Linked DNA regions of Homo sapiens. The protein of the gene in region 4 interacts with the protein of the main gene of each other region in a pairwise test. Each region holds a gene or a part of one and is shown on either strand. Other genes may lie near its edges.

Region 1 (3,604 bases), on a different chromosome or scaffold from region 4:
GAATCTACATTTTAACAAGACCTCCAGGTGGCATGTAGGCTCTGCTGTAGAACACTTTCTTTCTGCTAGAGGAATTAGTCATCTTTGCAGTAAGTTCTGCAGTACAGGATCATAAACATGTGAAAGGCATGAAGAACAGCCCAGAGCGTTTAATTCACACAGCTGGTAGGAGGAAGAAACAGCTCCCTAATGACAAATGCATCTGTGGGCGGGAGGGGACTTGGGATTGTGCTGGAACTGGATTTCTGAATTGCTACTACATCTTTTTTCCTCTCATCCAGGTCTCTTCAGAGCTGCTGTGCCCAGTGGTGCTTCAACTGGTATCTATGAGGCCCTAGAGCTCCGGGACAATGATAAGACTCGCTATATGGGGAAGGGTAAGCCTTAGAACCCACAGCCCATGGCCTCCCTGCTTCCAGCCCCATTCCTGGCCTTGCCCAGTCCTGTCCTCTCTGGGTGGCACTTGCACTTGCAGGTTTATGGCAGGTAAACCTGCTGTGACCCATGATGTTGATGGAAGCAGTGCACCACCTTGTGGACAGGAAAGTTGGTGTGTGGATTCCGGGGTTCCCGAGCCTGCATGCTCTGGGTCGAGAGTTCCAATGCTTGCTTCTATTGCAGTTTGTTCCCAATCTGCGAAATACTCCTTCACGGTTAGGACAGGAACCCAAGCATGAGAACAGGGCCTGTTAACTAAAGAAAAGTTTCCCCATCTCCCAGGAGGGTTCTGTGGGCCCTCCAGAGATCATCAGCCTCTTCACGGGCTAGAAAGGATCCAGGGAAGGTCTAACCAATGACCTGCCCTGAATGGTGAGCTGCAGGTGTGTCATTTAGTGTGATTTTCCTGTTGACTGACTCATAGGAGCCCTGCTCTGTGGCAGAGCTAGCCTCTGGCTGTATTCAAATTGACTTAGTGTGTGTGCAACATTGACCTTTCTAGAGATAGAACATGTGGCCAAATTACAGAAAAGCACATAGGGCTAGATCACGCATTCTCAGTGGGGCACCCGGAAAACTCCAAAAAGGCTGCAGGGAGGGGACAATGATGAAATCAGGTTGTGAAACACTGGGCTGGTGTCGCAGTGGTGGTGCTGGGTGTTCAGTCCCGCTTTAATGCTGTAAGAAGCACTCTACACACACGAACATGTTACCATTTGACCGTTGTTTAATGGCGTACGTGGGGACTTAGCCGGAGCAGGATGATGCTGTGCCTTGATGGTAATGAGTGCTCAGTAAGTAAGCATTTGTGGAAGATTGAACGCATGGCCCCTGAAATGCTCTCCTCTGCTTTCCTGCCCCCTCACTGTCTCTCACTCGCAGTCCTTAATCACCGGTTCTCTTCTGAGTCTCTCTCATTTTTCCTTCTTCATCCTCTGCTGGGCAGGCGTCTCCAGACCCATTAAGTATATTAATGAGTTCCTGGCACCAGCCCTGTGCACTCAGGTAACTGATTGAACAGCCTTTAGTCTGCAGTTGGCGTTTCCAGTGCATGGTCTTGCAAACTAACCTCCAGTCAGATCGTTCTGAGCCAGCTGCTGTTTTGTGTGGCTCTAACCCTCTGGGGTCCTAGGTAGGAGCACTCAGACTGGGCCGGAAAGTCCTCCGATTCTGGGGGGAAAGGGGAGAGGGGGAAGAGGTCCCACAGAAGGTCCCTTGGTGGGCTTCCGCGTCGGCCTCAACAGTGGTTCTCTCTAACAATGCTGCTCAAGCCTGTTTTAAAGTTAATGTCAGTAATTTGATTTGATTGTTCCTTCCAGGTGTCTCAAAGGCTGTTGAGCACATCAATAAAACTATTGCGCCTGCCCTGGTTAGCAAGGTAGGACCTGCCTCCTGATAACTAATGTGTCTAATGCCACCAGAGCGTCTCCCAGGCCCAGGGGCTTTCCTGTTTATGGAAGAGCTTATTCTGAGAGCTGTAGAAGCCTATTGGATTCCCTGTCACGCACGAGAACAATCCATGCATGACATAATTCTAACCTGCCCGCTGCCTCACCCCACTTTTGGGAGCAGATGGAATTGCATCAGAAGAATGAGACACTTCGAGCCCTGAGGTTTCTTCCCCCCTGCAACTCTCTGGACCTTTGAAGAAATTAAGATCCAGATTTTAAGAGTGGCTCTCAGGGGTGTTTGTGGTAGTGTCCATGGTGACTAATTTCTCATGAACTTTGGAATTATTTACTATAATTCTACTGACTTTAACAGTGGAGTTCCTGTTAAGTAAAATCTGGAAATCTCAGTATGTCAAACATAAAAGAGCTGCTGGAGGTGAAGTAGGGCTGGGGACCCAGCAACCCACCCGACTCTGCAGGTTTTATCTCATTTACCCTCCCTTCGGCCCGTCCCTCCGTAATTCCTGTGGCGCTCATCAGATGGGACTGGTTTGAAAACCCCTGTCTAAAAACACTCCGGGCCAGGTGCAGTGGCTCACACCTGTAATCCCAGCACTTTGGGAAGCTGAGGTGTGTGGATCACTTGAGGTCAGGAGTTGGAGACCAGTCTAGCCAACATGGTGAAACCCTATCTCTACTAAAAGTACAAAAATTGGCCGGGCATGGTGGTGCACGCCTGTAGTCCCAGCTACTTGGGAGTCTGAGACATGAGAATCGCTTGAAGCTGGGAGGCAGAGGTTGCAGTGAGCAGAGATTGTGCCACTGCACTCCAGCCTGGGCAACAGAGTGAGACTCTGTCTCAAAAAATAAAAATAACAAAGCTCTCTAGGCCCAGTCCAAGCCCAGCCACAGCCTCCGTCTATTCTTGAATCTAGTCCCTCTCCTCCATGAATTCATTCTGTACACGAGGGAAAAGGAGGAGTTCCTTTGTTGTCTCTGTCCCTGACTCGTTGGTTTAGGCCTGGCTTTTGTGGCACTCTGTAATTACTCCCTGCCCGACCAGCCCCCAGACAAAATGTCTTGTTACCGTTCTGTCTGCACCACCCCCTGCCAGTCTCCCGGACACCTCCACACATACCTTGTTCTCTGTCCCTTCATACCCCTGCATAGTGTGACTCACACGATGAGCAGGATCCCCTGACTTTTTTTTAACCCCCTAGAGAAACATACCAAACTGTTAGTGAGAATTGACCTCTGAAGCTGTGTGCTTGGGTAACTGCCTGCCTGTTGCAGTGATGCCTTGACAAAGCTGTGAAAGACACCAAATTGCTCATACAGCATGATGGGATCAGAGTTGATTTTCTTTGCATATTTTTTTATATCAAGCACATCATAGATAAAAATAATGCCTTGTTATTAATATATTAGTTTAAAATGGAATGCTGATTTTTGGCTGGGTGCAGTGGCTAACGCCTGTAATTCCAACACTTTAGGAGGACTTTAGGAGGCTGAGGTGGGCAGATCCCTTGAGGCCAGGAGTTTGAGACCAGCCTGGGCAACATGGCAAAGCCCATCTCTATAAAAAAAAAATATAAAAATTAGCCAGGCATGATGGTGCATGCCTATAGTCCCAGCTGAGTTTGGAGGATCATTTGAGCCCACGAGGTGGAGGTTGCAGTGAGCTGAGATCGTGACACTGCATTCCTGCCTTGGCAACAGAATGAGACTCTGTCTTAAAAAATAAAAATTAAAAAATTAAAAAGTAATACTGATTT
Region 2 (3,604 bases), on a different chromosome or scaffold from region 4:
ACAGGCATGAAGCACTGCACCCAGCCTGTTTTTCATTTTGATATTGTCAAAATGCACTCCTCAGAGGTGGTACCTTTTATCCTCCCACTAGCACTGTCTTCATTGTTAGTGGCTGCACTGCCACTATTCCACAGTATAAACCCACTTTTCATGACACTGCCAAGACATAAGGGTCTGAAATACTTAACAGTTTTCTTCCACAGTCCCCAAAATACAGGCTTCTCCCCCAGCTCAGGACATGAAGCCATCATCCCTCCTCATTGCAGGAGCCAAAGGCTGGACCTCACCTCGATTCCACCCTCTCCTTCACCCCTCACATCCAATCCATCCAGTCCATCCAGTCTGCCACTGAGTCCTCTTGATCTTCCTCCTATGAGCCCTTAACTTCGCGTCTCCATCTAGCACCCCCTAGTCCAGGTCACCTTCTCCTGCCTGGACTCGTGCTTGTGTGGGCCTCCTAGCTAGTCTCACTGCCCCGTCTTGTACTTTCAAATCCACCCTAAAAGCATGATGTTCCCCTGCTGAAATCCTTCAGTGGCTCCCCACTGCCTTTGGATAATTCCAAATCCTATTGTGTGTTAATTAGGATTAGGCTCAGCTGTAATATAGAAACAGCCACTTAATAGCTAAAATGAAATAGACGTTTTTTTCTTCTTTTTCTCTTTTTTTGAGACAGAGTCTTGCTCTGTCCCCAGGCTGGAGTGCAGTGGCGAGATCTCAGCTCACTACAACCTCTGCCTCCCAGGCTCAAGTGATTCTCCTGCCTCAGCCTCCCGAGTAGCTGGGACTACAGGCATGCACCACCATGCCCACCTAATTTTTGTATGTTTAGTAGAGATGGGGTTTCACCATGTTGGCCAAGATGGTCTCGATCTCCTGACCTTGTGATCTGCCTGCCTCGGCCTCCCAAAGTGCTGGGATTACAGGCATGAGCCACTGCGCCCAGCCTTCAATAGATGTTTATTTCTCTCCTGTGTAAAAAACCTGGAGGTCTGGCCTGACAACTCCATGTGTCAGGGACCTAGGCTCCTCTCTTGCTCTACTGTATGTGGTACTTCTGAAGCCAAGGTAGATGCTGGAGCTCCAGCAGTTAGGTCCACATTCCAGCATACAGGAAAGGAGGAAATGAGGAAGTTGGGCCCTCCCTTTAAGAACACTGTCCTGGGCATTGTACACAACACTTCCACTTGTGTCCTACTAGCCATATGCTGATACAAGGATACAAGGGAGACAGGAAATGCAGTTTATTCTAGGTGTCCTTGTGCTCAGCTGAAAATCTCAGGTTCTAATCCTATGTAAGGAGGGGAGACCTGAAACTGGGGACCACTAACCACCTCTGCCATATGATGCTCGTAGAGCCCTTCACAATAGGGCCTCTACTAACCTCACCTTATTTTTATTTATTTATTTATTTTTGAGACGGAGTTTCACTCTTGTCGCCCAGGCCGGAGTGCAATGACACTATCTCAGCTCACCGCAACCTTTGCCTCCTGGGTTCAAGCAACTCTCCTGCCTCAGACTCCTGAGTAGCTGGGATTACAGGCGTGTGCCACCACGCCCGGCTAATTTTTGTAGTTTTAGTAGAGACGGGGTTTCACCATGTTGGTCAGGCTGGTCTCAAACTCCTGACCTCAGGTGACCTGCCTGCCTCGGCCTCCCAAAGTGCTGGGATTACAGGTGTGAGCCACCACGCCCGGCCTATTTTTTTTTTTTTTTTAACTTTTCACTTTTTTTTGCAGTCACGCTCATTCTCCACCGTGTTCTTGGGGAACATGCAGCATGTTCTTTTGCCTCTTCCCTCACCCCAGAACAGGGGTTACTGGACAGCGGCATCAACTTCACCTGGGAACTGGATAGAAATGCAGATTCAGACCTTCTGAATGAGCTACTTTGGGAGTAGGGCCCAGCAATGTATGTTGAAACAGGCCTCCAGATGATCTCAATGCTTGCTCAAGTTTGAGAACCACTGAACCGCAGTATGACTCTCCGTGTCACCTGGCTAACTCTGCCTCACTTTCAGGTCTCAGTGTAGACACCACCTCTTCTAGGAAGACCTCTCTTGACCCACCAGCCCAGGAGAGAGGCCTCTCTGGGTTCCTAGAGGCCCATGCTTCTCTGTATAGTAGGGCTGATCACACTGTATGTGATTTTTTTTTTTTTTTTTGAGAGAGTCTTTACTCTGTCACCAGGCTGGAGTGCAGTGGCACAAACATGGCTCACTGAAGCCTCAACCTCCCAGGCTCAAGCAATCTTCCCACCTCAGCCTCCCAAGTAGCTGGGACTACAGGCATCCACCACCACACCCAGCTAATTAAAAAAAAATTTTTTTTTGTAGAGACAGGGTCTCACTATGTTGCCCAAGCTGGTCTTGAACTTTTGGGTTCAAGCAGTCTTCCCACCATGGCCTTCCAAAGTGCTAGGATTACAGGTGTGGGCCACTGCACCTAGCCTTGGACGTGATTTTATTACTCATCTGCCCTCCAAATTGACTGGAAGATCCTGACGGCAAGACTGCTGTCTAACCTACTTCTCTTCCTAGCACCCAGTGTTAAGTGAATGAACAAGATCATATCTCTCATCTGTGAATGTACGAGAGCCATGGATTATGAGATTAGTTGATTTTCTTAACTATAATTTTTAGAAACAAGCTGTGTTTTTAAGCAGGTATTTATTTCCTTAAATGTACATTTCTGATTACAAAATACTTTTTTTTGAGACAGAGTCTTGCTCTGTCACCCAGGCTGGAGTGTAGTGGCACAATCTCGGCTCATTACAACCTCTGCCTCCTGGGTTCAAGCGATTCTCCTGCCTCAGCCTTCCCAGTAGCTGGGATTACAGGTATGCACCACCACGCCCGGCTAATTTTTTTTTTCTCCCGTGACGGAGTCTTGTTCTGTTGGCCAGGCTGAAGTGCAGTGGTGTGATCTCAGCTCACTGCAACCTCCACCTCCCGGGTTCAAGTGATTCTCCTGTCTCAGCCTCCCAAGTAGCTGGGATTACAGGCCCACGCCACCACGCCTGGCTAATTTTTCTATTTTTAGTAGAGATGGGGTTTCACCATGTTGGCCAGGCTGGTCTCAAACTCCTGACCTCATGATCCACCACCTTGGCCTCCCAAAGTGCTGCCGTGGGCTGCACTTTGGCATTGCCTTGGTCACGTGCTGCTACCTGGGATTACAGGCATAAGCCACTGCGCCTGGCCTAATTTTTGTATTTTTTAGTAGAGACAGGGTTTCACCATGTTGGCCAGGCTGGTCTTGAACTCCCAGCCTCATGATTCGCCCACCTTGGCCTCCCAAAGTGCTGGGATTACAGGCGTGAGCCACCACGCCTGGCCAGGAAATACATTTACATGGCTCAAATTCAAAACTATAAAAGTCGGCCAAACATGGTGACTCACATCTGTAATCCTAACACTTTGGGAGGCTGAGGCAGGAGGATTGCTTGAGCTCAGGTGAGACCAGCCTAGGCAATGTAGGGAGACCCCCATCTCTACAAAGAATAAAAAAAAATTAGTCAGGCATCATAGTGCACACCTGTAGTCCCAGCTACTTGGGAGGCTGAGGTGGAAGAATCACCTGAACCCTGAGGTCGAGGCTGCAAG
Region 3 (3,604 bases), about 120 Mb from region 4:
GGCTGGATGCCTGGCCTGTGCTGAGGTTCAGTGTCGTTTTCCTGATCTTACAGAGAGGGAGGTTAAGTAACTTGGGCAGGGTCATAAACCCACAAATGGCAGAGTCGGGATTCGAACCCATGTCTCTGATTCCAGAGTTCCTCACCTTAAACCACATCTGGCTGCCTTTGTCGTGCTTTGCTCCTGTTGCATGCTGCAAAGCCAAGTAGGTTAAGACAGGCTAGGTTCCTGCAGGGCTGGGTTGCCCGAGACCTGGGAGAGGTCTTCCAGAAGGCACTGCTGGCCTTCCTCGCCCAGGGCCAGAGCTACTGGAGAGAAAGGGCTGCTGTTCACATTTTTTCTTTTCTTTAAGTGCCCCAGATACTTTTCATAAGGGAAGTGTCAAAACAATTGTCAAAAGGAGAAGAATATTTCCTTCCTCTTCTCAGGCTAGACCAAGCAAGGGAGTTGGAGGGTGGAGAGTGGAGGGACCTGGTGAATCATCCAAGATTAAATACGGGCAGGCACTGCCAGGCTTGTGTGGAGATGAGGCTGGGACACTGTTCGCAGGAAGAGTCCGGTGTTCTGGCCCCCTGATGTCACCTTCACGGGCCTGACTCACAGTCCTAAATATCTGACAGCGAGATCGCTTGTAGGTAGGCTTCTTGTCACTTGTCATTTAAGTCCCCTGCCTGCCTTTTTTCCCTGCTCATTTCCATTTCGATCACGGCTTCTACTACATGTGCTTGAAATGAATGTTGTGTGTGAGGACCTGTGTGGTTTGGGCCATGTTGTGCCCCCCTGCCAGTGTCCTTCGGTGTTGAAAGGAAAAGGTATTTCTCTCCCTTCCATGTATGTTCTGCAAATTGACGAACATTTGCAAATTGCTTTGAGATGCGTTAATTTAAGGTGTGAAATAATAGATCTTGTGCGAAGGCTCAGCCACATTTCTGGCATTGATGGATTTTTCTCCCGTCTGGCCTGTGATTTGGGGAGGTAAAAATAGTCCTTTTTTCCACATTTTTATCTTTTTTTTTTTTTGCTGACATCATTCTTAGGAAGTGGTGTGCACATGCCGTGGAACTTTACATGGAACATGGAGCTCTGGGGAGCAGGAGTGCTCTTGGAGTGAGGGGTGGTCTGCGGTGGCCCAGGCACCCCCTGGCTGTCCGTGAAATGGCTTTGAAATGAGCAGGCACTGTTGAGGGCCTCAGTGGCTTTTTGGTATTTGGCTGTCTTTTCACTTATGACTCTTGGGTAATGGCAAGATAACTTTTGGGGAAAATGTTAGTTTAAAAAGAAAAAAAATCAGGCCAGCACTTTCACTCATTCCTGTCTGAGCTGGTCCCTTCCTTTGGCCAAAGCTGAACTAAACCAATGGCCTTCTCAGACTCGACTTCCAGACAGAGGAGCCGACATTGGGGCAAATCAGTTGGTGGTGTAATTTCCTGTGATGTTAACTTTGGGAACTTGAACTTGGAGTGGGAGCTAGCATTTTGACATGTGTCCCTCTAACAGGACTTGCTTGTGTGGAAACAGACCCCCACATACATGGCTGCGCCATTGTCTCCAATTCTGGATTTTTCCACAGATGACTTCTCGGGTGATCTGGTGGTAAAGGCACAGGTCTTCTAGCCAGGCCTTCTTGGCCTCCAGCAAGGGCAGGATCACAGCACCCCACCAGACCTGACTGGCCACCACCGCTGTAGCTGTGGCTGGGCGAGTGGGGGGGCCATGGGAATTGAAAGATGGGGTGGCCGAGATCTGAAATGCATTCAGTTGCAGTGGCCTGGATCTGCACGGAGCCGTTCTTTCTTTCTCTTAGACATCTGCATGGTGGTGACCTCATAGAATTCTAAGAAAAAAGGGGCTTTATGTAGGAATTCCATAGAGTGTGAAGGAATTTGGACAGGGGAAGGGGGAGGGAAGTTGCCATTCAGAGCCTGCAGTGCCTGCATTTTCCCCGAATTGTTTAACCCTCATGCTTCAGAATTAGGCTGAGGCTTGCGGGGTGGGTCATGTTGACCTGGGTGAACAGAGATCCCTTTAAGAAGAACTTCTCCATGTTCCAGAGGCGCGTTCTTACTGCAGGTGAGTGGCAGTATGGGAATTAGTCCACAGGCCCCTTCTCGAATGCCTGCCCTCTCTTGTTCCTTGTCCTCAACGTCTTTGAAACTTGGGCTTGTTGGGAAGACACCTGCAAAAGGATGGATGCACATGACCTTCAGCTCTAATGAATCAAGCTGCTGATGAGGAATTCACTGGGCTCCCAATCCAGAGAGCTTCGCACACACCCACTGGGGTTGAGACGAGCACTGGGTTTATTTATTGTGGACTTTTGGAGTCTGAAGGACTCTTGCCACCCATCTGTTTCACGGAACAGAACCTGAGGCTCAGAGGGAGCAAGGCGCTCCCCCACAGCCGCATTGAGAGCCTGAGCCTGGGCACCCGATGGAGTGAATGAGGCTGGAGTCCCAGACCTGCCTCTCATGAGCACGTCGCCCACTGAGCCTCAGCGTCATCATCTGGAAAACAGGGATAATATTATGACCTCAGAAGCTTCGGGGGAGGAAGTAAGTGAAATAATGCATTTCAGATGCTCAGCGCCTTTTAAGTGCTTGATGCTCATTCCCCAAGATTACATGAGAGACATGGAAAATCTTTAATGACCAAGGACCCACCCAGGGTCACTCAGCCGGGACCCTTGGTCCGTGGCCCAGAGTGTCTCCAGTGCCCCTGCATTGAGGCCCTAAACAAGGCCAGAAGCAGGTGCCGGGGACCCCTCTGGATTCCACCAGAGCACCTTCCTAGGATCATGGCTCCCAAAACGGAAGGGAAGGAGACAGCGCAGTTTGCAAAGAGGCAGGATTTAAGCACCAGGGTGGCCCTGTGGCGCCTCAGGAAAATGTTTGCCTGTCAGTATCTGCTCTCGTTCCCACCTGTCCCCACAAAGCGAGGCCATAAGTCCTCGGCGTGGCATTGGAGGGTCTCTGAAGGCCCTGAGAGCTGTGTCAGCCACGGTGTGTTATGAAGCAAGGCAGATGTTTTGTTAATTATTTACACAGCGTCGGCCCCGCAGAGGACTGCGCTGACAGGAGCGGCTGTCACAGGCCTGGCCGTGGGGCAGAAGTGAGCAGCCGTCTTCCCCTGGCAGTCCTCCTGAAAAGGTCTGCATGGCAAGGCCTGAGGGAGTCCTGCACATTTTATGCCCCCGCCCCCCAAAGCCATTTGGGTTTCCCTTAAACTGGCTTGTTTTCCTGAGCCGGTGGAGAGATCCTTGTCCTCCGGAAGTGGCTATCGCTCTGGGGCGGCTTCTCTGCCAGCTCGTCACACCCTAGACCCAGCTGTAGTCTGTGTGGTGGGAGAGGGTGTCACCAGGCTCTGGAGGTCCACTCCTCTGTAGTCACCTCATGCAAGGAGGGCTTCACAGGGGCCCAGCCTCTACTCCCTCATCCGGAAAACGGGCCAGTAACACCAGGCACCAGCCCCGTGATCCTCAGGCACCCTTGGGGGTGATCTGCCTTAGAAATTCAACTTTAGGATTAGAATTCTGCTAAGAGGTACCATGTGACAAAAAAGGTAGTGTAAAAATCACAAAGACCAGGACAGGCTCATGCCTATAATC
Region 4 (2,325 bases):
AGGAAATCAATGTGGAGCCCCAGAGGGACATTTTATCTCAGAGAGAGCATGCTGGCCACAGGACCCAGTGCAGCCCTGCTTCCCGCACCGTGGGTCTTTCCTGATAGCTGCAGGCTTGAGATTGCAGCCTCAGGATAGGACACGTTCAGATGCCTTCCAGACTACACACACTATGCTTAGATTCGAGAGTCTTTCCTGACCTTAAAATTTGTCCCTTGCTTACTTTCACACTGCAGAAGATTTATATATATATTCATCATTATTTTTGCAGCAGTACAAGTGGAAACTTCAAAAAAATCATTCCCTTTCATGTCCTGGTCTTTTTAAGTCTTGATATGTAACCATTTTCATAAATGTCCAAACAGAGATTGTCATTCCCCTTAAAAACAGAAACAAAACACAAAACTAGTGCTTGTGAAAACACACAGCGCAAAGACAATTATCCTATTGCATTAAAAAAAAAATCAGTCTGCCTAGAGACATTTCATTGGCTGCATTGTCTTAATTCCCTAACGAAACTGCATCAAAATGTCAGTTGTAATTTAGCCTCTGATCAGCTGTTAAATATTATTTAAATATTTACAGGTCCTGTGGGGTATCTCCCATTACCCATGTCGCCCTCAAATTACATAAGCGATCATAAAATAAGAAGAAAAAAAAAGGTCTTTAGTAGATCACAGCAGAGTTACCACTGATAAGAGTGTTGGCTTTGTTCAGTTGTTTCTAAATTACCAGCCGTCAAGCACAGTAGCCCCTAAAACCAATTTTGAGCAAGGATAAATTCAACTCCCTCATCTGAGAACCTTGACTTTCCAGTTGCCTTGAAGTATTGGGAATAGTAACTGTACATTTTCAATTTAATTATTTGGTATTTTATTTGACTGTCTTGGCCATGTCATTTTATGGAAGCATTTTTAAATAGCACTTTTTGTTAGTGGTGTGGAATTTCTGCGGTTATTATTTTTTTTTTTTTTTGCAACAGATGAAGCAAAAAAAAAAAAGCACTCATTGGAGAAATAGTGAGTGTAAAAAGAGATTTATTTTGTACAGACAGCAAAGTATCCTGTGTAATGTTGCTGACATAAAGCACTTTGGGGGAAAAAAGTGGAAATCTGTTTTCCATAAATCACACAGACTCTTGTACATAGTTATATACACTCACGTAGAGAAATGAACTGCATATATCATACTGGATATGGGGCCGATTTTACTCTAGAGGCACATCTGGTGCTTATTGTCATAAATCTTTTAAAGAATTAGGTACACTTTTTTCTATTAATATGTATAGTTTTGTGATTTGTCACAGTTATGTTTCATATAATCATAAGTTATTTTGTCTTGTTCATGAAGTCCTTTTTTTATGTCAAAAGTAAAATGAAGGGATTGTGCACTTGGTACAGAATAAAACTGGAAATAGAGAAGACGCCCTCCTGCCTAAAATCCTCCTTCAGCCTGTCGGTTTAAAACACAATGGCAACCATCATTGTTTGTTTGTTTGTTTTTTTGTTTTGTTTTACCATCAGCCTCTTACATACTGGGAATGGTAATTATAATTAAAGGCAGATGATGCGGGAGGGAATGTTCAAGTCCAGCTTTAAAATGCTGCATTGCTTTGGGCCAGAGCTGTAGCCTGGATTTAATTATAGATATGAGGAGGAAATGGCAGTAAAAATGAATGTCTCCCTGAGTCCTTTACATGTTGGGAGTGTCCATAAATAAAACATGAAGTTTTATTTCATCAGATTTAATTAAAGCTTTTATACATGTTTTATTGGTTATTCTATTAATCTGCTTCACAAACCGGATAAATGTGTGCTAGGATTTGGGGTTTATTTGTGCCTTTTCAAAGTAGCGCTACATCATGCTTCAGAAATGCCTCTAGTGCTTGGTACTCCCAGTGCTGGGGTTTCAGCAAGCTGACAGTTGGAGGAGGGGGTCTTTTCAGCCCTGTTTTCCCAAACCCTTCAGAGAAAGACACAAGCATCAGCTTCCCATGATCTGATGCCCTGATCATATAATCTGATTCCCTGGAGAAAGGGGCAGGTACCATTTCCCTGGTTTCCTCATCCTGTCCACTGTGCACGCTTTAGAATACCACCTGTCCCATTGGCTGTGATGAGCTTTCTTCCTCAGCTCCCATCTATGGGGGGATGTGTCAAAATATTCTCACATCTGGTTTACCTGCTAGCCAAGCATGTGAATCCAAAAGAGATCACATCTCAAGGACCAATCTTAGAAAGTTGACTGTTTTCTTGCTGCTTTTTTTTTTTTTTTTTTTTTTTTTTAAGACTTGAGAATTGTTTTAAGAGAAGATACAAACTGGAA
Region 5 (2,286 bases), on a different chromosome or scaffold from region 4:
GAAGCTTCTATCCAGAAAAACAGGGATGGGATGAAATAAGTAAAGACAGCAAAATTTATTCTAGTATTCTGGTTCCTACTATGAACCAAACACTATTCAAAGTGTCTGGTATGTATCAAAAGATTTGATTTTCTAAATTTCCTTGTGGGGTAGGTATCATTATTACAATCCCATTTGCAGATAGGGCAGCTGAAGCATGTAGTTAACAGTGGTCAGACAGCTATGGATAGTAGAGGTAAAATTTGAGCCTAGAAAGCACATTACAGATATTTTACTCTTATTTACTATATTCAACTCACTCTTATAAAGTCATCTTACTAAGAATATAAGTCCAGAGGGCTACTTGACTTAATCATTCAATTTAGCTCTGATCTTCACTGCTTTGAAAAAAGATTAGGCTATAGTAACATGTTCCTCATAGTCTCATATTTTGCCAAAGACTTCTTGTTTGATGGTGGAAATATAGTAGGTTGCATGAAAAGATACTTCTGCCAGTATTATTGTTTTAAATATGAAAATACCTATACTTACTTTTGAGCCAGAACACAAATATAACAAATGCCTTGAAATTTCAGGAAAATTTTTATAAAAATACAATTTTATAAATAAAATGAAACCTCATTGATTACGAATTTGAAACTATGGGAAAGAACTATTGTTTTAAAACAGTCACAAAAGGAAATATTGATGTGAGAAAGAAAAGTATAGTTTTCTCATGCCTGGTATTTTAGAATTTCAAACTATTGGCTTTGTGTCAACAGTCTCTGGAAGCTGAGTGACACTTTCTGGCTTTTAAAAGAAAACCATCTCTCATGTGAAAATGAGAAGAATTCCTAAAGGAAAACAATGGGTTTGGAGCAGCAGGAAAGAGATGGAGAAACTCAAGCTCAAGGGAGATTACCATGACCTGTTGAATGTCAGCAAAAATAAGGTAAAATTATTGGTTGTTTAGAACAGGTCAGTTTGTTTACTAAAATGCTATTTCTTGCCATAAAGGCTGGTTGGAAAATGGTAATTTGAATGTCTGGTGTGAGTAGAGTTTTAAAGATCAGACAGTTGATGCTCATTAAAGATGCACAAATGTTTCAGATGTGGCTGAACAATAGAAAATGTTCTAAATGCCACAAGGCCACGATTGAAAACCAAGAGTCAACAAATTACTCATGCTGGTCCTTCAAATTAGCCAATGGCATGACTTGTGTATGGTTCCCACCCACACTGAGGCATATAAAAGGCCCTCTGCAGGGGAAGTGTTCATACTGAAGTCACCTACACTTCCTCCTACCCAAGGACAACCTCCACAACCAACACCATGTGTGGCAGCTACTACGGAAACTACTATGGCACCCCTGGCTATGGGTTCTGTGGCTATGGAGGCCTGGGCTATGGCTATGGAGGCCTGGGCTGTGGCTATGGCTCCTGCTGTGGCTGTGGCTTCCGCAGACTGGGCTGTGGCTATGGCTATGGCTCCCGCTCCCTCTGTGGCTATGGCTATGGATGCGGCTCTGGCTCTGGCTACTATTATTGAGGATGCCATGGGAGACTCTCACCCTCTATCCTGTGATACTGAGATTCACTAATTCTGAAGCCCACATGTTCTGAGATTTTCCCTTGAGTGATGATATCCTGCAATGGAAGTCTAATATGGTCTGTTGTTGAGCTACCATCTAACCTACAAATATCTTGAATTTCCATCATGAAACGGGATAAGGTAAAATTCACCTGTCAGTTCTCCTTTCATCAGAATGATGGTGTCACATCATCTGCCTTGATGACTTTTATGATGGAGCTTTTTTCTCTGTTCACCTAATAAACACATTTAATCCAGAAGAGAAACCTGGTGTTTATGTCAATCATTTAATATTTAAAATTTCTTACCAATAGTTTTTGTTTCAGTTTGCATGAAAGCTAACAATTAAATTCTTTGGGAGATATTTTTCTTACAATTTCTAGAGAGGTTTCTTTGCCAATTCAAAGCTCAATTGTTTTAGAAAAGTAAGCTTTTTAATAAATTTCAGTTTCCTCCTTTGCTTCTAGGGGAAGAATTTATGTTGTGCTGAGTAATTCTCAATACTAAATTAAGTACCTATCATTTATATGTTGGGTTATGCATTGCCTGCTGTCTGTCACATAACAAAGAAAAAATTTAATTTTCCGAAGCCTTCTTGTGCATATCTCCTAAAATAAATGAATGCTTGTTACTATATCCTTCATTTTGAATCTTCCATTTTAAAGAAACTATTTTTTAATGAGACATAACCAAAGGAATAGTTTTATAATCTAGTA
Region 6 (3,604 bases), on a different chromosome or scaffold from region 4:
ATGAAGCAGTCTTCCTTCTCCTGCCTGAATGAACACTATTGAGGTTAGGACCAATAACTGAAGCCGTATCTTGGATGGAAAAGGTGTGTCTGTGTGTGTATGTGTGTGTTCTGCCTTACCTTAAATATTGATAAAAAGTGAAGAAAGATACCTCAACTGTTGAGATTCCGAGATCGTGAATGACAGACCATAGTGAACTCTGGAACAGCCATTTAAAGAATGAGATAGCTCTCCATATGCTGAGAAGCAGTGATCTCTGCTGGGTGCTGTGGCTCATACTTGTAATCCCCGCACTTTGGGAGGCCGAGGAGGGCGGATCACGAGGTCAGGAGATCGAGGCCATCCTGGCTAACACCGTGAAATCCCACCTCTACTAAAAATACAAAAAATTAGCCAGGTGTGGTGGCACATGCCAGTAATCCCAGCTACTCAGGAGGCTGAGGCAGGAGAATCGCTTGAACCCAGGAGGCGGAGGTTGCAGTGAGCAGAGATCGCGCCACTGCACTGCAGCCTGGCAACAGAGCGAGACTCCATCTCAAAAAAAAAAAAAAAAGGTGATCTCGTGCTCACTTCAGCAGCACATATACTAAAATTGGAACGATACAGAGAAGATTAGTATGGCCCCTGCGCAAGGATGACATGCAAATTCGTGAAGTGTTCCATATTAAAAAAAAAAAGGTGCTGTCTAAGATATATAATTAAGTGAAATCTGCAGAATAGTGTGCTTCCATTTGTGTAAGGACAAAACATGGAAGGGAGCCTGTGGATGCATAGGCTGGACATATAGAGCACCTTGGCACCCACGATGAGAGTCAGAGCTGGTGAGAGACTTAGTACCCTGTGGGGTTGTTTTCCCTTGTGGTTATGTGGCCTTAAACAAAACTCTCTCTAAAGTAACGTACCTGCTTGAAGTGCAGTGGTGAGCCTGTGTGTGAGGAGGCTATGCCCTCATGGCAACAGCTACCCTTGGCAGAATCTGAACATCTCAGAGACATGGCCTGAGGATCCTCATGAGTTGTCTCTGCCACGGTGTGGGAGGCACTATTTAGACCTCCATTTACTTGAAGCCTAGTGTTCCTCAGGAATTCCTACATCTGCCTGTGGGAAAATGGTGATAGATTTCAAAGGCTCTCCAAGGTTCGATGTTTCCTTCTGAGTGCCATTTCAGCAACATAGGAATTTCGGTCTGTTTCTCCAAGGTGAAGGGCTTTCATTGCCCTGTTGCCTCTCTGTGGACTTCTGGCCAGGTGGCCCTACAGAAAAGCACCTTATTCTTTCTTGGCAGATCCAGTCATGGCTCCTGCCTCCCACCATGAGTCGGGATATTGGGGAAGCGAAGCAGATGCCAGAAGTCTTTCTGGTTTCCCAGGCCGAAGGAGCTTTCACACTAATAGCCTGTCCTTTTCAAGTCTGACAGAACTGGCAAGCAGGAACAATTTAGGTTTTTGGAAATATCCACAAACTCTTTGCTTCCATCCGGAGTGAATGCTTCTCTTCCTTCACAGGGGCTACCCTAAGAGGCTGGGAAGCCTCCCAGCCTGGGCTAGTGAGATCCCAGCCCAGATTCCAGGCCTGGATCTGGGGCCTTGAACAATGAGGATCCTTGTATCTCTCCCACAGAGAACACCTTCTGCAGTGGGGACCATGTGTCCTGGCACAGCCCTTTGGATAACAGTGAGTCAAGAATTCAGCACATGCTGCTGACAGAGGACCCACAGATGCAGCCCGTGCAGACACCCTTTGGGGTAGTTACCTTCCTCCAGGTGAGGCACAGGTTGGACGCTGGCTCAAGCCTTCCTGTGGGAAGGGTCCTGGGAGGACAAGGAGGCTTGAGGAGGGGGAGTGAAGGGAGTGGGAGGTTTCCTTTGGCCTCGTCCTGATTTCTGTTTCCTCTGATGGTTTGTCAGGTAGATTCAGATGGTCTGATTTAACCTGCTGAGATGGGAGAGGGGAGAAAGGGAAGGGGGCATTTGGTTGGGAGAGAATGGCTGTAGCTGAGAGGGAGTAATGGGGTGGCGGGTATTCTTTGAACAGTGAAGACCCAGTCTCAGGAACAGGACTTTCCAGCGGGAAGCCAGCTCTGGGTCGTCCTTGCTCTTTGCCAGAAGCTGTGGGAACCTGCCCAGCTTTGACCAGTGCTTGTTTTTGGTCACGAAGTCTATGTGAAGGTTCCACTGATTCCCTTGATATTTACACAAAGGCCTATCCCCTAATAAGGAAGGGAGGAGTTTCTCTGCAGGCTGCTATGACCTATTGGTGGTGGTTCCAAGCCTGATAGGTCTCAAAGTCTCTTGTTTACATTCCCCATGATACCAGACTGGGTAGGAATGGCTCCCTGAACCTCCCCTACTTCCAGAGACATGGCCTGAGGACACATCTTGAGTTGCTCAGGCCTTGGTTTTCTCCTTTGTAGCTAAGAGCTAGACTTGGTGTCATCCAGACACAGCAAGGGCAAGGGTCAGGCCTCAGGGCCCACATGTGGACCCAGCCATTTCCCAGCCAGGCAGCCACTCCCTCCTAAGGGAATCATCCAATCTTGGCTGCACCAGCTCCTGAGCACAGATCCTGCCTGTGGTCTCCCAACTGGAGGTGACTCAGAGAGCCTGGGTAGCTGACCTTCTTGGGGTGGGGGGTGGCCATTAACACACAATGGGCTTTCTATCCTGGGCCTCAGATCGTTGGTGTCTGCACTGAAGAGCTACACTCAGCCCAGCAGTGGAACGGGCAGGGCATCCTGGAGCTGCTGCGGACAGTGCCTATGTGAGTACCCATGCAAGGTGGGAGCGCGGCTCCCTGGGCCTGGGGGTGGGAGTCCCTCCACTACCCTCCATGTGGGGCTCCCTCTTGCGTTGTTATTTCAGACCCTGGTTTTTCACATCAGGGCTTCCTGACGACTCACTCCCTGACAGTCCCTGACCACGAACTATTCCCCTGTGTCCTAGGCCTGGGGCAGCAAACAGGGCAGGCTGTAGGCCCAGCCCATCAGCCCCAGACCCTCAGTTACCATTGTATCCCCTTTCCTTGTCCACAGTGCTGGCGGCCCCTGGCTGATAACTGACATGCGGAGGGGAGAGACCATATTTGAGATCGATCCACACCTGCAAGTATGTCTTGAGTGAGGAAAACCTTTCTAGCACCCTGTGCCTAGGCCTCTTCCAAATAACACTGGCTTTCATCCTGGGAAAACAGAGGACCTTTATGTGTGAGTGAGTAGAAATATGGCATCACTTGGAACTTGTCCCCTGAATTCTGCAGAGCACGTAGGGAGCAGAGGTTTCAGCCCAGGAAAGCTAGTCCTCAGACATATGTATTTTGGCATTTTAAAAGGATATTTTTATTGTATGTAAATTATATATTGGCTTAAAAAATTAGATTGCCAGCAATAAAAGATAAGTGTAGTGGATATTGCTTGCTTGCCCAGTATTCATTCTCCTGCCTCCCAGACTTTCTTTTAGGGAGCCACCACGGCCACCACCGCCCTGTACCAGACAGTAGTGTAGGTGATACTGACTCCATGGCTCAGCTGCAGGAGTGAGGGCTGATTGGTCTAATGGTCCTATCCCCATTTTCGCCACATTTTCTATCTTGGACAGTCAGATGCAGA

What was found.
Region 1: the proteins of GLIS3 (region 4) and ENO1 interact in a two-hybrid assay, tested with the Homo sapiens proteins (one large-scale study listed by BioGRID and IntAct).
Region 2: the proteins of GLIS3 (region 4) and TRIB3 interact in binary tests that used the Homo sapiens proteins (3 or more experiments, as listed by UniProt).
Region 3: the proteins of GLIS3 (region 4) and NEK6 interact in binary tests that used the Homo sapiens proteins (3 or more experiments, as listed by UniProt).
Region 5: the proteins of GLIS3 (region 4) and KRTAP6-1 interact in binary tests that used the Homo sapiens proteins (3 or more experiments, as listed by UniProt).
Region 6: the proteins of GLIS3 (region 4) and SUFU interact in binary tests that used the Homo sapiens proteins (3 or more experiments, as listed by UniProt).

The regions. Positions count from the first base shown.
Region 1 is NC_000001.11:8,868,664-8,872,267, reverse strand, and holds part of ENO1 (alpha-enolase), read left to right. Parts: intron 1-281; coding exon 282-377; exon of another isoform or gene 378-1,384; coding exon of another isoform or gene 1,385-1,443; exon of another isoform or gene 1,444-1,757; coding exon 1,758-1,816; intron 1,817-3,604. UniProt on the Homo sapiens protein: Glycolytic enzyme the catalyzes the conversion of 2-phosphoglycerate to phosphoenolpyruvate. In addition to glycolysis, involved in various processes such as growth control, hypoxia tolerance and allergic responses.
Region 2 is NC_000020.11:383,714-387,317, forward strand, and holds part of TRIB3 (tribbles homolog 3), read left to right. Parts: intron 1-3,604. UniProt on the Homo sapiens protein: Inactive protein kinase which acts as a regulator of the integrated stress response (ISR), a process for adaptation to various stress. Inhibits the transcriptional activity of DDIT3/CHOP and is involved in DDIT3/CHOP-dependent cell death during ER stress.
Region 3 is NC_000009.12:124,260,949-124,264,552, forward strand, and holds part of NEK6 (serine/threonine-protein kinase Nek6), read left to right. Parts: intron 1-145; exon of another isoform or gene 146-220; intron 221-519; exon of another isoform or gene 520-635; intron 636-1,967; exon of another isoform or gene 1,968-1,997; coding exon of another isoform or gene 1,998-2,070; intron 2,071-2,076; exon of another isoform or gene 2,077-2,552; intron 2,553-3,604. UniProt on the Homo sapiens protein: Protein kinase which plays an important role in mitotic cell cycle progression. Required for chromosome segregation at metaphase-anaphase transition, robust mitotic spindle formation and cytokinesis.
Region 4 is NC_000009.12:3,823,571-3,825,895, reverse strand, and holds the end of GLIS3 (zinc finger protein GLIS3), read left to right. Parts: 3' UTR 1-1,769; downstream 1,770-2,325. UniProt on the Homo sapiens protein: Acts both as a repressor and an activator of transcription. Binds to the consensus sequence 5'-GACCACCCAC-3'.
Region 5 is NC_000021.9:30,612,931-30,615,216, reverse strand, and holds KRTAP6-1 (keratin-associated protein 6-1), read left to right. Parts: upstream 1-1,286; 5' UTR 1,287-1,312; coding exon 1,313-1,528; 3' UTR 1,529-1,786; downstream 1,787-2,286. UniProt on the Homo sapiens protein: In the hair cortex, hair keratin intermediate filaments are embedded in an interfilamentous matrix, consisting of hair keratin-associated proteins (KRTAP), which are essential for the formation of a rigid and resistant hair shaft through their extensive disulfide bond cross-linking with abundant cysteine residues of hair keratins.
Region 6 is NC_000010.11:102,590,962-102,594,565, forward strand, and holds part of SUFU (suppressor of fused homolog), read left to right. Parts: intron 1-1,620; coding exon 1,621-1,763; intron 1,764-2,674; coding exon 2,675-2,760; intron 2,761-3,031; coding exon 3,032-3,104; intron 3,105-3,604. UniProt on the Homo sapiens protein: Negative regulator in the hedgehog/smoothened signaling pathway. Down-regulates GLI1-mediated transactivation of target genes. Down-regulates GLI2-mediated transactivation of target genes. Part of a corepressor complex that acts on DNA-bound GLI1.